4 separate regions of the Homo sapiens genome follow, and regions 1, 2 and 3 are each linked to region 4. Evidence: fine-mapped expression QTL. A gene starts in region 4. Each other region holds a variant in brackets. All regions are shown on one strand. Distances are between the middles of the regions. Region 1 overlaps RELL1 (RELT like 1). Region 2 holds the start of LOC105374406 (a long non-coding RNA gene). Region 3 overlaps RELL1 (RELT like 1). Region 4 holds the start of RELL1 (RELT like 1).

Region 1 (5,268 bases), 70 kb after region 4:
AATAATGAAATAAATCCAAACTGAGATCACTTTTTGCTTCTCTGGTGACAAAGATGAATGTTAACACTAGCATGACCATATAACTCACATCCAAAATGAGGAGGTAGCTCACACCTGTAATCCCAGTGCTTTGGGAGGCTGAGGTGGGAGGATGGCTCGAGGCCAGGAGTTTGAGACCAGCCTGGGCAACATAGTGAGATCCTGTCTCTGCAAATTAAAAATTAAAAAATTAGCTGGGCATGTGGCATACACCTGTAGTCCCAGCTACTTGGGAGGCTGAGGTGGAAGGATTTCTTGAGCTCAGTAGTTGGAGGCTGTAGTGAGTCAGGATCATGCCACTGCATTCCAGCCTGGGTGACAGAGAGAGACTCTGCAGAGAATAAAAGGGAACACTGTGAATAATTATTCTGGGTAAACATATATAAACCAAGACCTCCCAGGCAAACTGGTTCATGTGGTCACCTTGGTTAAAAGGGTGCAGGGGCTGGGTGCGGTGGCTCACGCCTGTAATCCCAGCACTTTGGGAGGCTGACGCAGGTGGATCACGAGGTCAGGAGTTCAAGACCACCCTGGCCAATATGGTGAAACCCCGACTCTACTAAAAATACAAAAATTAGCCAGGTGTGATGCCGCACGCCTGTAGTCCCAGCTACTCGGGAGGCTAAGGCAGGAGAATCGCTCGAACTTGGGAGGCGGAGGTTGCAGTGAGCCGAGATTGCGCCACTGCACTCCAGCCCGGGTGACAGAGCGAGGCTCCTTCTAAAAAAAAAAATGTGGTGCAGGGAGGTGGGTGCAGTGGCTCACGCCTGTGATCCCAGCACTTTGGGAGGCTGAGGCAGGTAGATCACCTGAGGTTGGGAATTCAAGACCAGCCTGACTAACATGGAGAAACCCCATCTCTATTAAAAATACAAAAATAGCTGGGGGTGGTGGCGCATGCCTGTAATCCCACCTACTCGGGATGCTGAGGCAGGAGAATCACTTGAACCCGGGAGGCGGAGGTTGCAGTGAGACGAGATCACACCATTGCACTCCAGCCTGGGCAACGAGAGCGAAACTCCGTCTCAAAAGAAAAGAAAAGAAAAGAAAAGAAAAACGACCAACCAACCAAACAAAAATCAAGAGGGTGCAGGGAGATGGACATTATCCCACACCAAAGCAGGAGGCTACAATGGTCTAGACCTTTGTGGTGGCAATCTGGAACTGTAAAAACTTAAATATGTACTCTTTGACCAAATTATTCCAATTAATAAATATCATGCATAAATGCAAAGATAATGTCCAAAGTTGTTCACTTTAGCATTATTTACATAGTAGCAAGTACCTGGAAGCATCTTTAAATACATCTATCAATGGGAGATTAAGTAAATGAATTGTGCCTTATGCATTTCATAATGGCCTGCAAATGCCAAAGATTGAAGTAGATGCTGGGTGTGATAGCTCATACCTGTAATCCCAGCAGTTCGGGAGGCTGAGGCTGGAGGACTGCTTGAAGCCAGAAGTTTGAGATCAGCCTGGGCAACATAGTGACCCTGTCTCTACTTAAAAAAATAAATAAATAAAAAAAAATAAAAAATTAGCTGAGTAGGGTGGCATGCACCTGTAGTCCCAGCTACATGGGAGGATAAAGTGGTAGCTTGAACTCCATGACTTAAGCCCAGGAGTTCGAGGTTCCAGCAAGCCATGATTGTGCCACTGTACTCCAGCCTGGGCAACAGAGTGAGACCCTGTCTCTTAAAAAAAAAGAAAAAAAGATTGATGTAGAGTTATATGTACAGACACAGAGCATCTACTGTATATTATTAGATGAAAAAAACAAGTTATAAAATATTCCAGTTGTGTTTAAAAATGATATGCAGCATGGCTCAGTTTTTCTTGCGTCGAAGCTGATTGTTTAAGCTTCCTCCCTGCATACACTAAGCTCCTTCAGGACTTGGGCAGTGCCTTTGGATGGTGTCTTCTCATCCTTTGCTGAGACTTTAGGTGGCATCTTGGCATCTTGTACATAGTTGGCCCTCAGTGATTCCTTAACAGGTGTGATAATATGGCATTCATCTCATCATTACAAGAGCCCTCTGCAAATTAGTCGAATTCTAGTTCCCAACTACTTTGAAATACATTTAAAAACAGATTCTGTAATTTTAAAATTGAGTTACTGATTTTTTGTTTTGTTTTGTTTTGAGACGGAGTCTCACTCTGTCACACAGGCTGGAGTACAGTGGTGCAATCTCGGCTCACTGCAGCCTCTGCTTCCCAGGTTCAAGCGATTCTATTGCCTCAGCCTCCCAAGTAGCTGGGACTACAGGCATGCGTCATCATGCCCAGCTAATTTTTGTATTTTTAGTAGAGACGTGGTTTCACCATGTTGGCCAGGCTGGTCTCGAACTCCTGACCTCAAGTGATCTGCCCACCTTGGCCTCCCAAAGTGCTGGGATTATAGGCATGAGCTACCATGCCTGGCCAAGTTACTGAAGTTTTTAATTAATATTTCAGTCTTTAAGTGATTTTGTCATACTTGTTTTCGCCCCCATTTCTGAGATGTATTTTTTGACCTCCGCTGACTTTATAGTGTTGTGTTTGCAGGGTTTACCCTTTGGAAGCGGATTTAATTCTTGCTGTTTTTAATCAGTTGAAAAACATTAGTAC[T/C]GGGTCTTACCTAAAAGCTTAAACCTTCATACGTGCATTAGAATCAATGAAGCACCTTATAGGAAAGCAGAGTCCTGGACTGCAACCCCGTAGACTCTGATTTAGTAGGTCTCAGGGAGAGGCCCAAGGAATCTGAAGTTTTTGGTAATATTTAAGCCGATTCTAAAGCAGGTTCTGCTGATCATTCTGGGAAACACTGATTTTAAAAGATTGCATGGATTAGCCTAGATTAGCATGAATCTATTGGGTTTGTTAAACAAGAGCCTTTATTAAAATAAGAAGGTATCCGTGTTAATTTATAAAATTTAACACACAATTTAGACCAGAGCAAGATTTAAAGGACTATAAGCACTGAATACTCTGTGATGTGATTCCATTAATCGATATCTGCCAAGATGCCGATCTACGCAGGCAGTACCATTGCAGGACCATGGTGTCACATGCACAGCCATCATAACCTGCAAGCGTGTAACTGCAGAATGGTCAGTAGAGCCTGGAACAAGATAAATCTCTAACTAAGAAGTGTGAGCCTTAAAGGAGCACAGATTATTAGTGATTGATCACTTAAATGTAGCTCCGGGACTTCAGTGTTAATATTGCTGTCATGTAGCTCTATAAACAACGTTCTCTATTTATTTTATTTAAAAGTGGTCAAGAGAATTATTAATCCGACTGTGTGGTTCCATAGCCTTGTCTTAGAATGAGATCAGAATTCAGTGTTGTGTAGGTGTATACTTTTGATCTTCCCAGGGACTGGGCCCCTTTAAAGTATAGGTTTTTAGCATCATTTAACTGTTCATGCAACCACAGTGATTTCCCCTGAGAGAGACCCTGGCAGCATTTCTAGTTTCTGCATTTCCTTTCTGTTGCCTGCCACACAGGTGGGGAGCAGAGAAGCGAGGGTACCAGAGGATTCCAGTGATGCTGTGGGTGTGTCCGGGGTGACTGGATAGCAGTGCAGCATGGAGGTAGCTTTGTGGTCTTCCAGGTCTTACTGCCTGGGATGGATTTCCTACTTTCCCGTTACTAATTGTGTGGCCTTTGGTAAATTATTGAACCTGGAAGCCTCAGTTTCCTCCTATGAAAATAGGAATCATTGACTTATGGAGTCATCGGGAAGATTGAGTTAATGACCCTAGAGTGCTTAGCATGACAGTACCTGGCACAGAGAAAGTGCTCTGCAAATGCCAGTGCTGTTATTATTAATCAGATAGACTTTTTCTTCCTTAACATCCTACACTTAGAGATTTTAGCATTTACTGTTCATTAATCCGCTTAGGCTCCTAGTTTCTTATAACATGTTTCTAATTTTTAAAGGGATCAATTTCTTTTTTTTTTCTAGAGAATCCTTTTTAACAAGGCATAGATATTTGTATGTATATCCTAATCAGAGACATATGGCAGCTTCCGTGGACCCATAGTATAATGAGAGGATTATGGCTTTATCTTTATAAGATTATGTCATAAGCAATAAACTCTAAAGAAAAAGACAACCTCTTCCTTTGTTCCAGATAAATCTTCTGGGCGGTTCTTAATTTTTATCCATCAGTCTTGTTTTATAAGCAAAATGGTTACACTTTGGGATTTCTGAATTCTGTTTTCCATGTAATGGAACTTCGCTTAATTTTTTCCAGCTTGAGTACTCACTTGTGTAAACTGTCATCACAAAATTTCTCCCGAAGAGAGATAGGCCAGGCTTGCTCAGTGTGGTGTGGTCCCATGTGATGGCAACTGGGAACAGTGAGTGGGTGGGTGTTTCCTCTCTCACCCACTCCTGTTAGCCTTTCTGGTGTCTCTGTGCCCACCCACACATGATTTCTGACTGCTGCAGGACAATATGGAAGGCACCTTGTAACACTTTTATTATTGTTCTGGGTTAAAGAAATACCTGGAAGGTCATAGTGTTGTGCCAGTAATGTGCTACCTTCTAATAAATGTGTGTTTGTAATTAGAGACCAGAACTGCAAGGGTTTTAATAAGATTAGCTTTCCCTTTTCTGCTTAGTTTCTGGTATTAGCAGTGAGGACTTTAAGCAGTGATTTGTATTTTTTACTTCCTCTCTCAAAGATATTACAGATAGTGCAGTTTTTATCAGCTGCAGAAGGCAGCTGTTGAAGAAAGCTAATGTGATTGTTGAGAGCAGAGAATTGGATGATGGTAATGACCAGAATAGTTAACCTTTCGGAGCATACTGATTGCTTTTCCTCGTATTAAGCGTTGTGCATAGGATCATCTCATGTCAAATCCCCAGTAACCCTAGGAGAGAATGCTACAGAAACAGCCACGGTTCCACGGCTGGGAGTAGGGGTCTGGATTTGAATCCAGGCCCCTCCTTTTTAGCTTAGCCTGTATTCTTGCATGCCCAGTTCTTAAAGCCGGTCAAATCTGTGCAAAACACTCAAAATGAGGAGTGTTTCTAGGTTGCAGTGAAAACTGTTACTGTGATGAAACATTAGTTTCTAGGCCTGACATCCCCCACCTTTGACGTTGTTATTTTCCTTGATGCAAAAATGTCTAGTTCTAAGGGAGCACATAAAGAGGAGACATAAAAACAGTGGAATACCATACCTGTTTTCTAGATAATGGCCTAGTTTAAGGTTTTGCCTGGAAAATTCCCTCTCA
Region 2 (5,268 bases), 75 kb before region 4:
GGCCAGAGTTCCTACCCTAATTTCTCAGTGTCACACTAGCAGTTGCATGACACAGAGGTGGACCCATCACCCCCCTCTGCAGCTGGCACTCCTACCCAGGCACAATGTGACTCAGTGTGACCCTGTTCAGGTTGGAGCTATCTTTGGAGACACTGTCCCAGAAACAAATAAAACAATATAGGATGCTACATTGTCCTAGATGTATGAGGAAATTTGTATTCACTAACACATTGCTTATACATTTATTCATTTATTCAGCAAATGTTGATTGTCTACTCGCTCTGTTTTACTCAGTGTATTTGTCAGGATAAAGGTTAGACAGCTATAAGAAAGAAATTTAAAAATGCAGTGGCTTAAGAAAGAAAGAAGCCTTTGCTCTTTCCAATCACAGTCCAGGAAGTCCACGTTGGCAGAGCACCTTGGCTACACCTGTTCATTCAGGATCCTGTTGCCTCTCTATCGCATAGAGTATGTCTTTGCAATGCTTGTGTTTTGTGTAAGTGTTTAAAGGCCGCCTCACTACTCCTTTCCACATAAGAGGATCTGTATTCTCCAACACACTTTGAGAGTGTTTACACTTCGAAAGTGTTTACATTTGGACAGTGTTTACACTTCACTTTGACAAATCAGAAACATGTTAACTTAAGAAATGTCATTAAAATGTTCCCATGAAATTTATTTTTGAATATGTTGTCTTTTAGAAAAGTTTTTAGGCTGGGTGCAGTGGCTCATGACTGTAATCCTAGCACTTTGGGAGACCAAGGTGGGTGGATCACCTGAGCTCAGGAGTTCGAGACCAGCCTGGGCAACATGGCAAAACCCTGTCTCTACAAAAAATACAAAAATTAGCCAGGCAGGGTGGCATGCACCTGTAGTCCCACCTACTCTGGAGGCTGAGGTAGGAGGATCACTTGAGCCTGGGAGGCAGAGGTTGCAGTGAGCTGAGATCACATCAGTGCACTCCAACCTGGGTGACAGAGTGAGATCCTGAGATCCTGTGATCCTGTCTCAAAAAAAAAAAAAAAGAAACAAAGAAAAGTTTTTTTAATGTTTATACTCAAAAAGCAAGCAGTGTAAACAAGTTGTCTGCATTGGAAAGAAAGCCTGTGGAGGCACCAATGTGTATCTAAGCTAATACTGTAACCCCCAGTTCTGCTTGCTGCTGTAACCCCCAGTTCTCTAAGGAAAGGTTTTGCATAGAAGTCCAGACTGCTCTGCTCTACTGTTACTGAGCACGGAGCATTGATCTCATAAATCTTTTTGAAGAATGCTGACCTGGCTTTTACAGTTTTTGACATGCAGTATGGGGGAGAGTCCAACCTCCTTCTATGGACAAGAGAAAATAATCTTGCTAGCTGAGGTCATAGACACACTGCCTGGGGTCAGCAGCAAAGGAGGCAGAGAAAGACTGACCAGCCAGATCTCTCCCGCTATCGTCTCTCTCCCTACTTGCCTTGTTAGAGGAAGTCAATGTTGCATTAACGGTGTGTGTGTGTGTGTGTGATCAGAAGCTTTTTTGATAAGCCTATGCTTTGACATCCTAAACCTCAGAGTTTGACCTTAGGAAGGGGTTCCCAATACTTAGAATAAACCAGCCCTCTTCTGTATGCTCAAAACTACATCAAAAGCTTCCAGAAAGTGGAAAAGCAATTTCTTTTGAACAAAAGAGTTGGATGTGGCACACTCACCCTGTATTAATGAGAATGTGGTCACATGGCCATACCAAGCTGCAAGGGATGCTGGGAAATGTAGTTTCTGGCTGGCAGTCCTGTGCTTAAGTGAAACATGAGAGAAAGTAAGAAAAGATTGTGGTAGAGTAATTCCTCACTATGAGGTGGATTTTCAGTGCTCCACAGGAGTTCATTCTCATTTTCTCCCACCCTTTTCCAGAGATGTATTATATTTTAAAAGTTTCATTAAGCACAGTGAGACAACTCAACAGAGTAGAATCTCATGCCTTTCCCCCACTCCCCAACCCTCGCTCCCTGAAAGAGAGGATTGCCCCATCACTTACAGGGCAAGTGCAATCTTGCCATTCACTTCTTTCTTCCTTAGAGCACTGATTCATTGTTGCCATGAATTAAACATTGTTGCCATGCATTTCAAACACTCAGGTT[C/T]GCCCCAGGGGCTGCATATCCTACAAATGTTGAAAATGAACCCACCATCACGTGATTAGACATCAGGATACCATTAATTCTGCCACACATGTGACAAATCCTACCCAGCCCCAGACACCTCTATGCCAAACCAGGAGGGAACTATCTCAAGGTAATAATTAGACATACATCCTTCCCTGCTGTGATCAGGGCTTTGTGCTTGATGCTTTATGGACATTTTCTTTCATCTCTGAAGCTGTGTTTTCAGGCAGTTTCCTGGGATCACCTCCCAAATAAACTACTTGAAGCAACTCTTTGTATTTGACTTTACTTGAGAAGGAACCCAAATTATGATAGTCAGCTTAGATTAATCAAGATTTACTCCCCACTTCCACTTCCTAGAGCCAGGAAGAAATCTGTGTAACATGTGGGTGCCCAATATTACAGAACATTAGGGCTCTGATAGCAAGGAATAAGGGGAATGATTATGGGATAGGCACCTAGCAGTTCCCTCCAGTGTTTTTAGCAAACTCTATCTTTCTATATCCAAATGAATGGCTGGGCGCAGTGGCTCACACCTGTAATCCCAACACTTTGGGAGGCCAAGGAGGGCGGATCACCTGAGATCAGGAGTTCCAGCCTGGCAACATGGCAAAACCCTGTCTCTACTAGAAATGCAAAAATTAGCCAGGCCCGCACCTGTAATTCCAGCTACTTGAGAGGCTGAGGCAGGAGAATTGCTTTAACGCAGAAGGTGGAGGTTGCAGTGAGCTGAGATAGCGCCACTGCACTCCAGCCTGGGTGACAGAGTGAGAATCTGTCTCACAAACAAAACAAAAATTAATGAGTAGCTATCTGTCCCCACACTCTTGAACATGTATCTTACATTTTACAATTGTCTTGGGATTGCAATTGTCCTGTCTAGAAGGCTAAGGCTGCTAGAATGTCCACTTAGGTTTGCTCTGCTCAGGGTGAATTCAGAGAGCAGGCTCTGAATGGGCCCAGTACTCCCATTCATGTGGGGAGCCTTCTGTTTGGCAGCCCTGAGTGTCGTGTGACCAGACTAGGTGGCCCACTGGACCTGTTTAAGTCTGGATGTGGCAGGGTGAGCAGCCACATGCCCCTGTCCTGGGTCACTTAGCTCTCTGGGGAAGTCTCTTGCTCAGTACTTACCATGTTCCATTGTCATCATCTGCTTTTCAGGCTGCTTTTGAGATCCTGGGGCCAGGGCTGCCGTTAACCCAACTAGGAGCTTCACTCAATTTGTAATGCTCTTCCGCCTCTGGTTAGCGTCAGCTTCATAGACACATCTTGGCTTGTAGAATTTGTGCAATGTAGCCAGGGTCAGGGCCAAGGTTTATGAGCAGAACTTGGGCTAAATTTCAAGCCTCATCCTCCTTTGCCCTCTGCAATGGATGAGGCAATTTTGTGCAGTGCTCAAGCTGGGCAACCACACACAACAGCCTTGTCAGGGGCTATGTCTCCATCTCTGGCTCACAATTGCATAGCATAGTGCCTGAACATGACCTTGAGTAATTTGCTTAACCTCTTTGAGTCTTATCTCATTGCCTGTAATACAGTGGTTTTAATAAGACATTACCTCATGGGATTTTTATGAGAGTAAAATGGTCAGAACATGAAGAACAACGGCCCTGTGGTCAGATTCCCTTAGGTCCAAATTCTGGCTCTGTCACTCAGAGGTATGGCTTTGGGCACGTTCCTAAGTCCTCTGAACCTCAGTGTTCTCAACTGGGGATGATAATAGTGTTTACCTCATGGTGTTATTGGGGAGATTAAATAAGAATACGTTTAGAATACATATTTTAGAATCTGGCATGTATCAAATATTCATTCAGGTTTAGCTATTATTACATTTAGCTTTTATGTACAGCTCCTAGAGTAGTTCCTGACATACAGTAACTGATCAAAAAATGGTAACTATCAGGTGATACATATGATCAAATACAAATGATACATAAATGGATGTGGAACAAACTGAAGCAGGATGTTCAGTCCTGAGAGAGCAGACATGTCTTTGTCCACATGACTCCTTTTGGTAACTGTTCTCCTCCCCCACTCCATGAGCTCCTGGAGTAACTCTTACACCTCTGCCTCAGGAGTAACCTTGGGCCCCACACTAGCTGATCTTAGTACTCCATCTCTGAGCACAGCAATTTGCTCAGGCGTGGGCAAGGACCCAAGAAGACCCCTTGGAGTCACCCTTGAATAATGATGCATGTCTGCTGGAGAAGACAGGGCCTCTTTCTCTGAAATTGTGGATAATAGTGCTTGAGGCTCAGGGTGTCACCTAACTGCCAGTGGACAATTTGCCCACCTTGTGGAGAGAGGCTGCGTTACCCACCACTGGAGAAAAAGCAGAGCTGAGCAATGGAGAAGAGAGGGCCTTAATGCCATTGTTTTAATCCTAGATCTAGCCATACCTGAAGCTGTCCCTGCACTTGGACTTCCCAGCCAGATGATCCTCTTATTTCCACTTTTGAGTAAAGTTATTTCAAATTAGCCTTCTTTCATTGGCAGTGGAAAGGACCATCTTACTCAAGGGAATGTCTGATGAATAGTAGTAATAATACTTACAAGATTGGATAACATTTATTGAGGCTTACTAGATGCTAGGCACTCTTCTAAGTGCTTTGCATGTATTAACTTATTTAGACTTTGTAACTGTTTTAGGTAGGCATGTTACTCCTATTTTACAGATTAGAAAACTGAGTTTCATAAAGATTTCTTGGCTAATGATTACAGTCAGGATTCAAACATATTATTTATTTATTTATTATTATTATTATTTTTTTGAGACAGGGTCTCACTCTGTTACCCGTGCTGGAGTGCAGTGGTGCAATTTCGGTTGACTGCAACCTCGACCTCCCGGGTTCATGTGATCCTCCTACCCCAGCCCCCCAAGTAGCTGGGACTACAGACACACACCACTACACCTGGCTAATTTTTGTATCTTTTGTAGAGAGGAGGTTTTGCCATGTTGCCCAGGCTGGTCTTGAACTCCTCGGTTCAAGGGATCCATCTGTCTCAGCCTCCCAAAATGCTAGGATTACAGGCATGAGCCACTGTGCCCAGCCTAGTATTCAAACTTAGGCATCCAAGGGAGCAATGGACCATCCAAAGCACTGGCCTTATAATGTCTTTCAAGTATCAT
Region 3 (5,268 bases), 23 kb after region 4:
AACATTTACTCACCTTCCTTTTCCAGTTCCTATGTTCTCAGAAGCCAGCCCACGTGCCTGTCTTGCAGGAACATTGCCCGACCTAACCTGTGACTAATTGGAAAACCCTTCGTTTAGGACTTTTGTAGTTCTCTGTTTAGTCATTATCTGCTTCCTGTTCCTGGAAGGAAGAGAAACACTGGCTTGCATGTGGGGATGTGGGTGCCTGCCTGGCCTTGTGGTACCACCTGAGCAGTGCTGTGTGGTCGCTGCTCACTCACCCCCAGGGCTTATCTTTTCTGCACCCCACATTTAACACTGCCCCTTCCAGCCCAGCTCATGTGATTCCTTGTCCTTTTCTGGATGTTTGATTTTATATCCCCAGCTGAGCTGTGAGCTTGGTGAGGATAGCAACTGCTTTGCTCTTATTACCACAGATAATAATAATCACAGCAATAATGGCTAGCATTTATCAAGTCTTAACTTGGATAAACCCTAGTAATCTCATATAAGGCTTAGAAACTATTATTATTTTATGGATGAGGAAACTGAGGCACAGAGATGCTAATTGACCTTGCCTGGGGCTTCACAGCTAGGAAACAAATTGAACACAGTGCAGCCAAGAAAAAAGCCAGTTTCTGCTTTTGCTTCCATGCTTCATAGGGAGTAGTCTTGCTTCAGAGTTGGCCCTGCGTGCAACAGACCTTGGTTCAAATGTTGGCCCAGCCATTTCCCAGATGAGTGACTTCAGCTTCAATACTTTGTTCTTGATCATCTCCATTTCTAAGATGGGTTTAATATTAACACCTATCTCAGAGTTGTAGAGATAAGAAATGATAATGTAAGTAAAAATTCCAGTAAAGGTTAGTGGCTGTTAGCAGTTGGTGGTAAAGTAGTTGAGCATCCTAGAGGCCCTGGATCTGGAAATCATAAACCCCCAACACTCCACAGGGGCATCAGTCACCATCTCTCTTTCTCCCTCTGCCTGGTCGGGTGCTGGGCCAGTCTTCCTTTCTGACGCCCTTGCTTCCCTCCAGCCAGCTCAGCACCACCCATTTTTTCCCCATGTGATTAGTTTATGTCCTATTCTGCAGGGTAGAAATGACTTGGCTGGACTTCTAACCCTGACAGGTGCCAGTTGTGCCCAGAAACCAGGGATCTAGCTCCCCAAGGACTGGTTTCCTGCACCAGCTCTCTGTAAGCTTCAGGGAATTCACTGATTTCCTAAAGGAGCACCCCTTTGACCCCATTTCTTCCCGTTGCTACTGGAGACAGGCTGAGATGGCGTGTTTCCTCCTATTTGATGGTTTTTTTCTGGCCCTTGCTACTTAGACTTCCTCCCATAGTTTAAATAATTTCTAACCTAGTTCTTGGTTGGCCTCTTGCAAGGAATATACATGAACAGTTCTGTTAGGACTCGCAGCCACGTGGAAATTGGGCAGTAGCCTTTGGTGAGGTTGTGTAAGCTCGGATTTAGCGTCCCCTTATGGATCTGGCAGTTGGGGATGAATTGGAGTCCTGTGAAAATCCAGTTGAGAGCTAGTTCCCCAAGCTGGGTTTAGGAATGTGCTGCTATTTATAGCCTTTCTTTTGGATCTTTGCAAACTGGAAACTTCTGTTGATTTCGATGAACCCAGGAGCATGCTGGTATATTTACATCCTTCAGAAAGGACTTACCCAACAAGGGGGTGAAGCAGTGGGGTGTATCAGTTGTCCAGCTCTGAAAAGAATCTACTTATTTATGTTTGTAAAAACTGTTGGCATTTGGCAAATGGGGTGTAAGTACACTGGATATTCTGTTCTACCAAATAGGATCTTAACAAAACTGCTTATAAAGTTACTGTGAACTTGGGGACTTGATTGATTACCCAGGAGCCCTTCTGCAATGAGAGAATTTGCTTTCACATATAACATTGCTGCAGCAGATGTTTCAGGCACTCCTACTGTGTTGCAGGAACTGTGTTAGGGATTAGAGGTACAAACCTTCACTTCCCCACCTCCACTTAGGGAAAGAGGTGTTTGACTTCAGTCAGGGTTTTCCGGCGAGTTCTGTGTCCTGCTGGGATTCCTGCCTTTGACCGTGGTATGTCTGAGTGGTGCGCTGTTGTAGTGAGGTGGGTGGGGAAAATGTCCTCCTAAGCTTTGGTTCTTCTGCTTGGCTCATTTCTCTGCCTCGACCCAGTGATATCATGTAGGCCACTGATTTATTTACAGAATGATGATATTACCTAACTTCTTGGGATTAGGGATTTCAAATAAAAGAATGAATGTGAAAGTGCATTGAAAAGTGTGTTATTTGGGTGGGAACTTTTATATCTTGTACTGTGTGTCCCTATCTCATGTGTATGATTGAAAATTTTCTTTATTCCTCTCCTTTCTTTTTAAATATTTTTTCTGAAAGATTTTTAGATGCCATGTAATTAACATTGCTAGTACAAATTATGTTTGTGGCAACCACTGAATAACAGTTTTTGAGCAATAATGTGAACACATGCATCTGTGAATAAGGTGCTTTTCAATAGCTAGAGAAAGGTCTTTTACTTTTACCTTTATGATAGTTATAGAGGGAGATGAAGTAGTTATACATGAGTGATTTTTTTTTTTTTTTGAGATGGAGTCTCACTCTGTCACAGTGATGGGATCTCAGCTCACTGCAAGCCCTGCCTCCCAGGTTCAACCCGGGTTCAAGCAATTCTCCTGCCCCAGCCTCCCAAGCAGCTGGGACTACAGGCACGTGCCACCATGCCCAGCTAATTTTTGTATTTTTAGTAGAGACGGGGTTTCACCATGTTGGCCAGGATGGTCTTGATCTCTTGACCTTGTGATCCACCTGCCTCGGCCTCCCAAAGTGCTGGGATTACAGGCATGAGCCACTGCGCCCGGTCGATCTTTTGTTTTTTGCAGTTAAAATTAATATTGGGAAATTTTGTGCTATGAAGGTTTTTAAAAAATGAAGCCACTACAAATTTCATTCACCTACAGCTGACTTCAGTCTTTTTTTTATGAAGATGATTTTTACACCAGAAGAAGATATGTGCAAGTTCCAGTGTTAATCGTATATCATAGGGTCATTGGAGAGAGGCAGCTTCTTAGTGTTTAAGGGCCTTGGGTGGGTGAATGTTGACCTGTATGCAGCCCAGCTGTGTGGTTCATTGGTGACAGTTTAACAAAGCCACCTAAATGCATGTGTCACTAGATAAAACCCAAGGCCACCGCCACTTACAGACACTGTTAAGCAACATGGCTAAGAGTGTGGGCCCCGGGATTCCATTGTCTGGGTTGGATCCTGTCCTCCTACACACCGAGGCTTGTTATTGAACCC[G/A]TGTGCCTCATTTTCCTCATCTGCGAATGGGGGTAATGAGAGATGCTTCCTTACAGATGCTGCGAGGGAAGAATGAGATTGCCCAGGAAGCATCCAGAACACTGCCTGACACCACTAACACCCCGTGTGAATGCTGCGATTGACAATTAAAGTAGCAACTCATTCTTTATGACGTACCACCTTTCAGAAATAATCTGAAGCAAATATTAGATTTCTGAAGCCCTGTTGCTTTAAGGTCACTTCAAACAAATGACTTCTTCAGAATTCCATTTCTTTCTTGAGTGGACATAATGTGTAATTTTAAAGGTTCGCAAGAGCCATTAGTCAGAGGCTCTCTCCATTCCTGTTGTGCAGCCACCCAGCCCCTTCCCAGGAGACAGACGGTGCTATCAGTAAATAAAGACTTTGGAAAAGTCCCCAAATGGACAGCACCAAAAATAGCAAAAGGAGGAGGGGCAGCGAAAGAGGGAGGGAGGGGCTGGAGAACAGGAAAAGAAGATGGGGAGAGAGTCAGCAGGGAGCCCTCCCAGTCCTTGAGCCCCACGGGTATTGCTTTTCCTCACGCCCCTCTCTGAGGACCCCACTGATGTGTGCAGCCATCAGTGAGGGTCTGTGGGAATCTCCTCAGTCTTCTGTCTTAGAGGCACAGTTGGTGGCTTCCTGGCCTGTATCCCAAAGCAAATAACTGGCAAGCTGACCTTGCTCCAGTCTGGGGTGAGGCCAGGTCAGATGAGCCTTCTGTTGTATCCTGAATGCAAACCATTGTTTGAGATACTCTGGAAGAGTCCAGAAGTTGAGGTCCTTGGCCTCTCAAGACACCGGGATCCTAGAGTTAATTTCCTCCCAAGACGGAGCTTTGGGCGAGGTGGGAGGTGGGGGAAGATGGGGGGATGGGGGTGGCTGTAGCTGTCATCTGTGTTGGAGTTCTGTGGCTTTAAGAAATAACTTCAAATGGTAAACCCGAGACAGTGTGGAGTAGGCTAGGGACTTTATCTGACTCTGCAAAGTTATTTTTCTCTCTTCAGTTCAAATTGAAGCCAGGGATGGTAATATTTAGATTTCATCTTTTTTTTTTTTTTTAAGATGTTTCTTTATATTGACATCACTCAAGTTTCAGTCCTTTGTTCTGGTAGCAACCCGGGGTTCAGGAATGCTCTGAGTGCCCCAGCCTCCTGCCTGTCAAGAGTGTCCTGTTCCCTTTTTGTCCAGCCAAATTCAGTTATTCTGTTGAGGCTCAGCATAAAGTCCTTTTTCTTTCTGGATCATCTTTGTTACTTCCCTTCTCAATCTATGTGGTATTTAAGAAGAAAGCCCCAGCTTAAGGATAGGTTATGCCCCAAATACTACTTTTGAGTAAGTAGATTGTAAGTTGAAATGCATTTTCCCATTAAAAATGATAATTATCATTAGTAATGATAATTTTTCAAGGCATCCATTAGCCAAATGCATCTGAAAATAAGGATTTATAGCTAGGCTTTGCTGACTTCTGCACGTTTTATTGGGGAAGTTGTCTGAGCTTCCATCTGTTCCCAGAGTGGTCTTTGCAACCCAGAATCAGACTCCAGGGCTCATGACTCATGGTAGCATTTCAGGAATTTTAACAAAATAAAAGTAATTGAGGGACTGTATGCAGCTGGCGTTGGGTGGGGTTTTGTTTCATGGGTGGGTGGACTTTGGCAGGTGGGTGCCATCTGGGTGTCCCCTCCCTGCCCAGTCATAGCTGCCTTTTCGGGGAAAGGTGGGGTTGTAGCAGCTGTTTGTCTAGGAATTGTCTGGAAGCTGGTAGCTGCCTCAAGTTTCACTACAGAGTTCAGCACTTATTTATATACTGACTTACAGTGTTCTCCAATTCTGTTTAAGCCCATTTGTTCTCTCTACAACATATTCTTGAGCTTGGGCAAATGCTGTGTCTTTATGATTGCCACTGTGGGTAGATGGTCTTAGAGACTGTGACTTTAGTTATCTCT
Region 4 (5,268 bases):
GAGCTAGTTGGCTGGAGTTCTGCATTTCAGAGGCAGAATAGTGCAAGAGGAGGTTGCAAGTGTGGGCCCAAGGGAGCTGATCCTGGATTTGCATCCTGGTGGTGCCAGGGAGAGGCCATGTGACTCAGGTAAATGCCCTAATCCCTCAGCTTTGAAGTGAGGAGTGTTAACAATGATTCCCTAAATATAAAATCATTGTGAGGAATTGATGAAAGAATACAAAAAGAGTTCCCACCATAGGATTGGGCTAAATCTAAGGGCAGAATGAGGATTATTGTTTTTAATTAATGACAGTTATTCTTAAGAATTATTAAAACTCTACTTTTGTTTCTGAAAAAATGGAAATACAACTTAGTTTTAAGATTTCCATTTTATGTCCTCAGAAGAAATATGACATTCCCTTCATAATAGAGAATAGAAGTTCCATTACATTGGGGTTCTTACTTTTAAAATAAAACAGTGGATTTTTAGATATACATATGTAGAAGCTATTTAAATTGTATGAATAAATCTGTAGGGTTAAGGATATGGAAAATAATTTAAGCTTGATTTTCTTTCTTTCCTCTCTCCTTCCCTTCTTCACTTTCCTCCGTCCCTCCCCCTCTCTTCCTCCTACCCTTCCTTCATTCCTTTAACAAGACATACAAATGCATGTATACGGGGTACGTGAAAGTAAGACATTTATAGAGAGTGTGTCAAGCAGGTGTTATGGAAAGTTTAGGAAGAGAAATTTCAGAGCCCTGGGTTTCAACCCTGGCTCATAGTAGATATGTCAGGCAGATCACTTAACCATCTCTCATCTGTAAAACAAAGGGCCTGGTAGATAATGGGTAAGGCTTAAGTACTAGATTTTTATATTTGAAGAGCCATAACAGATATACAATTCAAATGTGTTGTTAAAAATGATCCCGTCTTTCTTTTTTTTTTTTCTTTTTTTCTTTTGAGACGGAGTCTCGCTCTGTTGCCCAGGCTGCAGTGCAGTGGCACAATCTCGGCTCACTGCAAGTTCCGCCTCCCGGGTTCACGCCATTCTCCTGCCTCAGCCTCCCGAGTAGCTGGGACTACAGGCGCCCGCCACCACGCCTGGCTACTTTTTTGTATTTTTAGTACAGATGGGGTTTCACCGTGTTAGCCAGGATGGTCTACGATCTCCTGACCTCGTGATCTGCCTGCTTCGGCCTCCCAAAGTGCTGGGATTACAGGCTTGAGCTACTGCGCCCAGCCAAAAACGATCCCATCTTTTTAATACTAAGTCCAATCTGTGGGAAAAGAGTGAAACATGATTCAATTTTGAAATGACATTTTACATTTTGATTAGATTTCTTGATTCAAGCATTTTGTTACATTCTAACTTACAAAACCAGAGCTGGCTTTATAAGTGTGTGACCTGTGCAACTGTGTGTTTAGGAGGGCTCCACAATCGATTTAATGTTGTGTTGTTGCCATCTTGAAATTCTTAACGATTTTTGAACAGAAGGCCCTGCCTTTTCATTTTGCATTGTGCCCTGCAAATTTTATAGCTGGTTCTGGCTACAACTTCTAATTTATAGTTTAATTTCTAGGTCCGGGATTCTCTCCTGTTTTAGTTAGAAATCCACATGGATCGCTTTCCTCCGCACACATTCTCAATGTTTATGTTGATATAAAACTAGCAAAGGCTGCCTGCTAAGACTGCCAGACTGTAGGATGCGCTGCCAACTGAGCGCAGGACGCGCAGTGCCCTCCTTGGGCTTCAAAGGGCAGGGGCTCCATCCTTCAGCCTCAGCCATCTGTACTGTAGTGGCCTGAGCTTCTGTCACTGGCAATTCCCACATCAATGCAATGTTTGTAATAATAGTCCAGCAGACTGCGTGGAGGACTCGGTGAGAGAATAAATAGTCCTCTGAAAACTAGAGGTTATCAGTCACCTCAAGGATGAGACCCATCCTGTGAAAACCCACAGCCTCCATGCACCCCCTCTTCTTGCTGGTGTTGAGTATTTGCTCAAGTCCTGCCCTAATTTCCTTCAAGCAAATGCTTGATGGCCCAGTAACAACAGTCTCTACAGGGCAGTAAAAAGGAACTATTCAGAGAGAGCCTCTGAGTCCTATTAATGCTTGTGAAGATGATTCAACTTCAGAAAACACTTCTGACCTCTTAGCGTGTGCTGTCTGTCCTCCATCCAGGCGCTGAGGGCACAGCAGCGAGCAAACACAATGACAATGAGATAATTACAATTTATCATGGTGGCCCAGACATCGTGGGTTTACTCCCTGGCCTCTAATAGTCACCTCGCAGAGCTGATGTGAGGATGTGAGGAGATAATAAGCGTCTGGGCATTGAAAGACCTACTTTGCGGGAGTATGCGCAAGGTGCAATACAAGCACACGATTAAAAAAAAAAGGCAAGTTGTTCCTGAAAATGCATAGAGGTATTTTCCCCAATAGGAGCAGCTTAAATGCAAACAAACAGAGGAAGAAATTTAAGTTATCTTTTCTGCTAATTTCCAAACAACAGAACGTGACATCCAGCACAGCATCACTCCCTAGATCTGCAACCGAGGGGAATGCTAGTGGATAGACATGCCAACAGCGAAAAAAGCCTGTGCTCACTCCAGTGCTGGCCGCTTCTGACTGTCCAGTGCTTCTCGGGGCGCGCTCCCTCTTTCTCTTCCCACGCCCGCCTAGTCCCAGCGACCGAGGGAGGTTGCACCCGGGCGACCCTCCCCCCGCCCCGGGCTCCCGCGTAATCCCGGCCCGGCTTGGAAAGGAAGCGGGCCTGGCAAGTAGAGGCACGGCCGGGCCACGGTGGGCAGGGCGCAAGGGCGGGGCTATAGCCTAACTGCGCCGCCAAGGCTGCTGCTGGGTTTGGAAAGGAAGCGGGAGAGGAGGGGTCGGGCTGAGCTGTGGGTGGGGAAAAGGGCGGGGCCATGGATGGGCCACGTGCCTTCTTAGGTGGAGTCCGGGGCTCGGTAGGGAGAGGCGGGGCCAAGCTGAGGTGGGTGGAGAAAGAGGGCGTGTCCATGGCCTAGCTACGCCGCTGAGGCTGCTGCGGGGTTTGGAAAGGAAGCGGGAATGGCAGGGAGAGGCGGGATCAGGCTGAGGTGGGCGGGGAGTCGGGGGCGGAGCCATGAGTGGACCTCGTGCCGGCTTAGGTGGAGCCCGGGGCGCGCGGGGAGAGGCGGGACCGAGCCGAGGTGGGTGTGGCGTGGGGCGGGGCAATGGCGGGGCGGGGTTCGCCGCTCCCTGGGGCCCAGCCCAGCCACTCGATCAGCCCGCCGGCTCCGGAGCGGCTCTGCCTTCCCGAGCGCGGGACGCGGCGCCCTGGGGGAGGAGGGCGAAGCGACGCGGCGATGGCTCCGCGGGCACTCCCGGGGTCCGCCGTCCTAGCCGCTGCTGTCTTCGTGGGAGGCGCCGTGAGTTCGCCGCTGGTGGCTCCGGGTGAGTGTCCGGTCGTAGCCGGGGCGCCGGGTGCTGAGCCCGGTCCCGGGAGCGCGGAAGGAAGCGAGGGGTCGGGACGGCAGCCCCGCGGCGTCCTGCTTTCTGGCACAGCCGCGGGATCCCGGCACTGAACAACTGGCTGTCCCGCGGCGGTCCGGGCAGGGCGCGGTGCGTGGCAACGGCTCCCGTCCCTCCCCTCCCGCGGGCCCCGCTCCCGCCTTCCCTCCCTGGGGCCTCCTCCGAGGATCTGTGTTCCCCAGCGCTGGGCAGTGCGGGGCGTAGGGACCAGGCCTTCTTCGGGGGCGCTTCCTCCACGGCCGCTCGCCTCGGAACCCCGCGGACCCGTTTCCCGCCGCCCTTGTCCTCAAAGGCGCCGCGAGCGGAAGATCGTGACACAGAGCACCGGGTGCGCTGTCGGCGCCTCCTTCTCCCTTTTAAATACCTTAAAATATCCTAAAACCTGGAGGACTTTGAATCTCTTTCCACGTTTCCATTTATTTGGGTGGTTGATGGATTCTTGTAACAGGTCAAGGAGTCCACATTTCTTCCCATATATCCTGTATAAATCAGGCTCGGAAAAAGGGAAGGCGCGTTGGTAAACTTACATTTTTTTCTTCTTTTTGTTGATTCCTGTCGTCACGAAAGGAACCTTGTGTGGTCAGGGCAGGAAGCCACCAACAGAGATGCTAAAGTGTCACCAACGATGAAGCAGTTTTTAATTGAAATCAATCTTAAGAGGAGGTGTAAGTTTTATGGAAGTCCTATGTCACATCCTTGCTTTTATAATTACAGACACTAGGGATTCCTTACCACCGCTTCCCCTCTTAATTGCCACCTAACAGCTGCAGTTAAAAAAAAAACATACTTACTTGGCCATTTGGGGTTACTACAGCTGGGAATCTGACGTCAGCAAGCTCTTCCAAGCTTGATTTCAGCGGTGGTTCCTCCTCAGGCCCAAATAATAAGCAACTGGAAGCCTTTCAACAGTGACTGTCTCCTCCATAAACATCCATAAACTCTTCCTCCTGAGAACATTTCAGTCGCTTACAACTTTTACACTGACTTAGCAGTTTGGCCTTCACTTTTTCATAGAAACCAGAGCAGGTTGGAAGGGAAGGAGATGGATAATATTGTCTCCTGAGTCTTTTTAGCAGGCCCGTATTTCCGTTAGCCATCCACCTGGGGAAATGGCAGCTAGTGACATGTTTTACTGGATGGGACAATTTTTTTTTTCTTTTCCTTATTTTGATACAGGGGCTCATTTTGTCACCCAGACTGGAGTGCAGTGGCACAACCTCGGCTCACTGCAACCTCCAGCTCTCTGGTTCAAGTGATTCTCCTGCCTCAGCCTTCTGAGCAGCTGGGATTACAGGCATGTGCCACCATGCCCGGCTAATTTTTGTATTTTTAGTAGAGATGGGGTTTTGCCATATTGGCCAGGCTGGTCTCGAACTCCCGACCTCAAGTGATCCTCCTGCCTCGGCCTCCCAAAGTGCTGGTATTACAGGCATGAGCCACCATGCCCTGCTGGTTCATTTTGATTTTCATCCTGCGTTTGATTGCTGGGACACATAGGTGCATAATCAGGTTCCACTTGGATGTGAGGTTGGAGACATTCATTAGAGGGTTAGAGTCAGTTGCAACAGAATCTGGGGAAGAGTTTAATCTGGGAGTAAAATTATTAAAAATTCAGCACATGATGCATGTAATTAGCCATCATCAGCAGGAGAAATCCATCCCTAGAGTGGGTGTGTGTTTGGTTTGACCTCTGAGCAACACCCAGGTCTCAGGACTAGAATGTGACTGATGAAAGCTCTCATCTAATTGCATGACAGCCTTTTTTTTTTTT

What was found. PIP is the estimated chance that this variant, and not a neighbour inherited with it, causes the effect.
Region 1: its variant is fine-mapped to the expression of RELL1 in whole blood (TOPMed, PIP above 0.99).
Region 2: its variant is fine-mapped to the expression of RELL1 in whole blood (TOPMed, PIP above 0.99).
Region 3: its variant is fine-mapped to the expression of RELL1 in caudate (GTEx, PIP above 0.99).

What each region holds. Positions count from the first base shown.
Region 1 is chr4:37,614,695-37,619,962 of GRCh38, reverse strand. All of the region lies in intron 6 of RELL1 (RELT like 1), which reads left to right. Among named protein-coding and RNA genes, the nearest start is that of RELL1, 69 kb to the left of the region's middle. The variant T/C (reference allele first, on the strand shown) is at 2,647.
Region 2 is chr4:37,759,273-37,764,540 of GRCh38, reverse strand. It overlaps LOC105374406 (a long non-coding RNA gene), which reads right to left and starts at 3,494. Exons shown (of 3, transcript XR_001741505.2): 1 at 3,270-3,494; 2 at 2,015-2,137; 3 at 716-1,773. The variant C/T (reference allele first, on the strand shown) is at 2,118.
Region 3 is chr4:37,661,692-37,666,959 of GRCh38, reverse strand. The region is part of intron 1 of RELL1 (RELT like 1); the gene reads left to right. Among named protein-coding and RNA genes, the nearest start is that of RELL1, 22 kb to the left of the region's middle. RefSeq lists enhancers at 1-409, 1-891 and a silencer at 3,059-3,353. The variant G/A (reference allele first, on the strand shown) is at 3,302.
Region 4 is chr4:37,684,351-37,689,618 of GRCh38, reverse strand. RELL1 (RELT like 1) reads left to right here and starts at 3,243. Exons shown (of 7, transcript NM_001085400.2): 1 at 3,243-3,419. The coding sequence starts at 3,332. RefSeq lists silencers at 2,545-2,854, 3,035-3,704.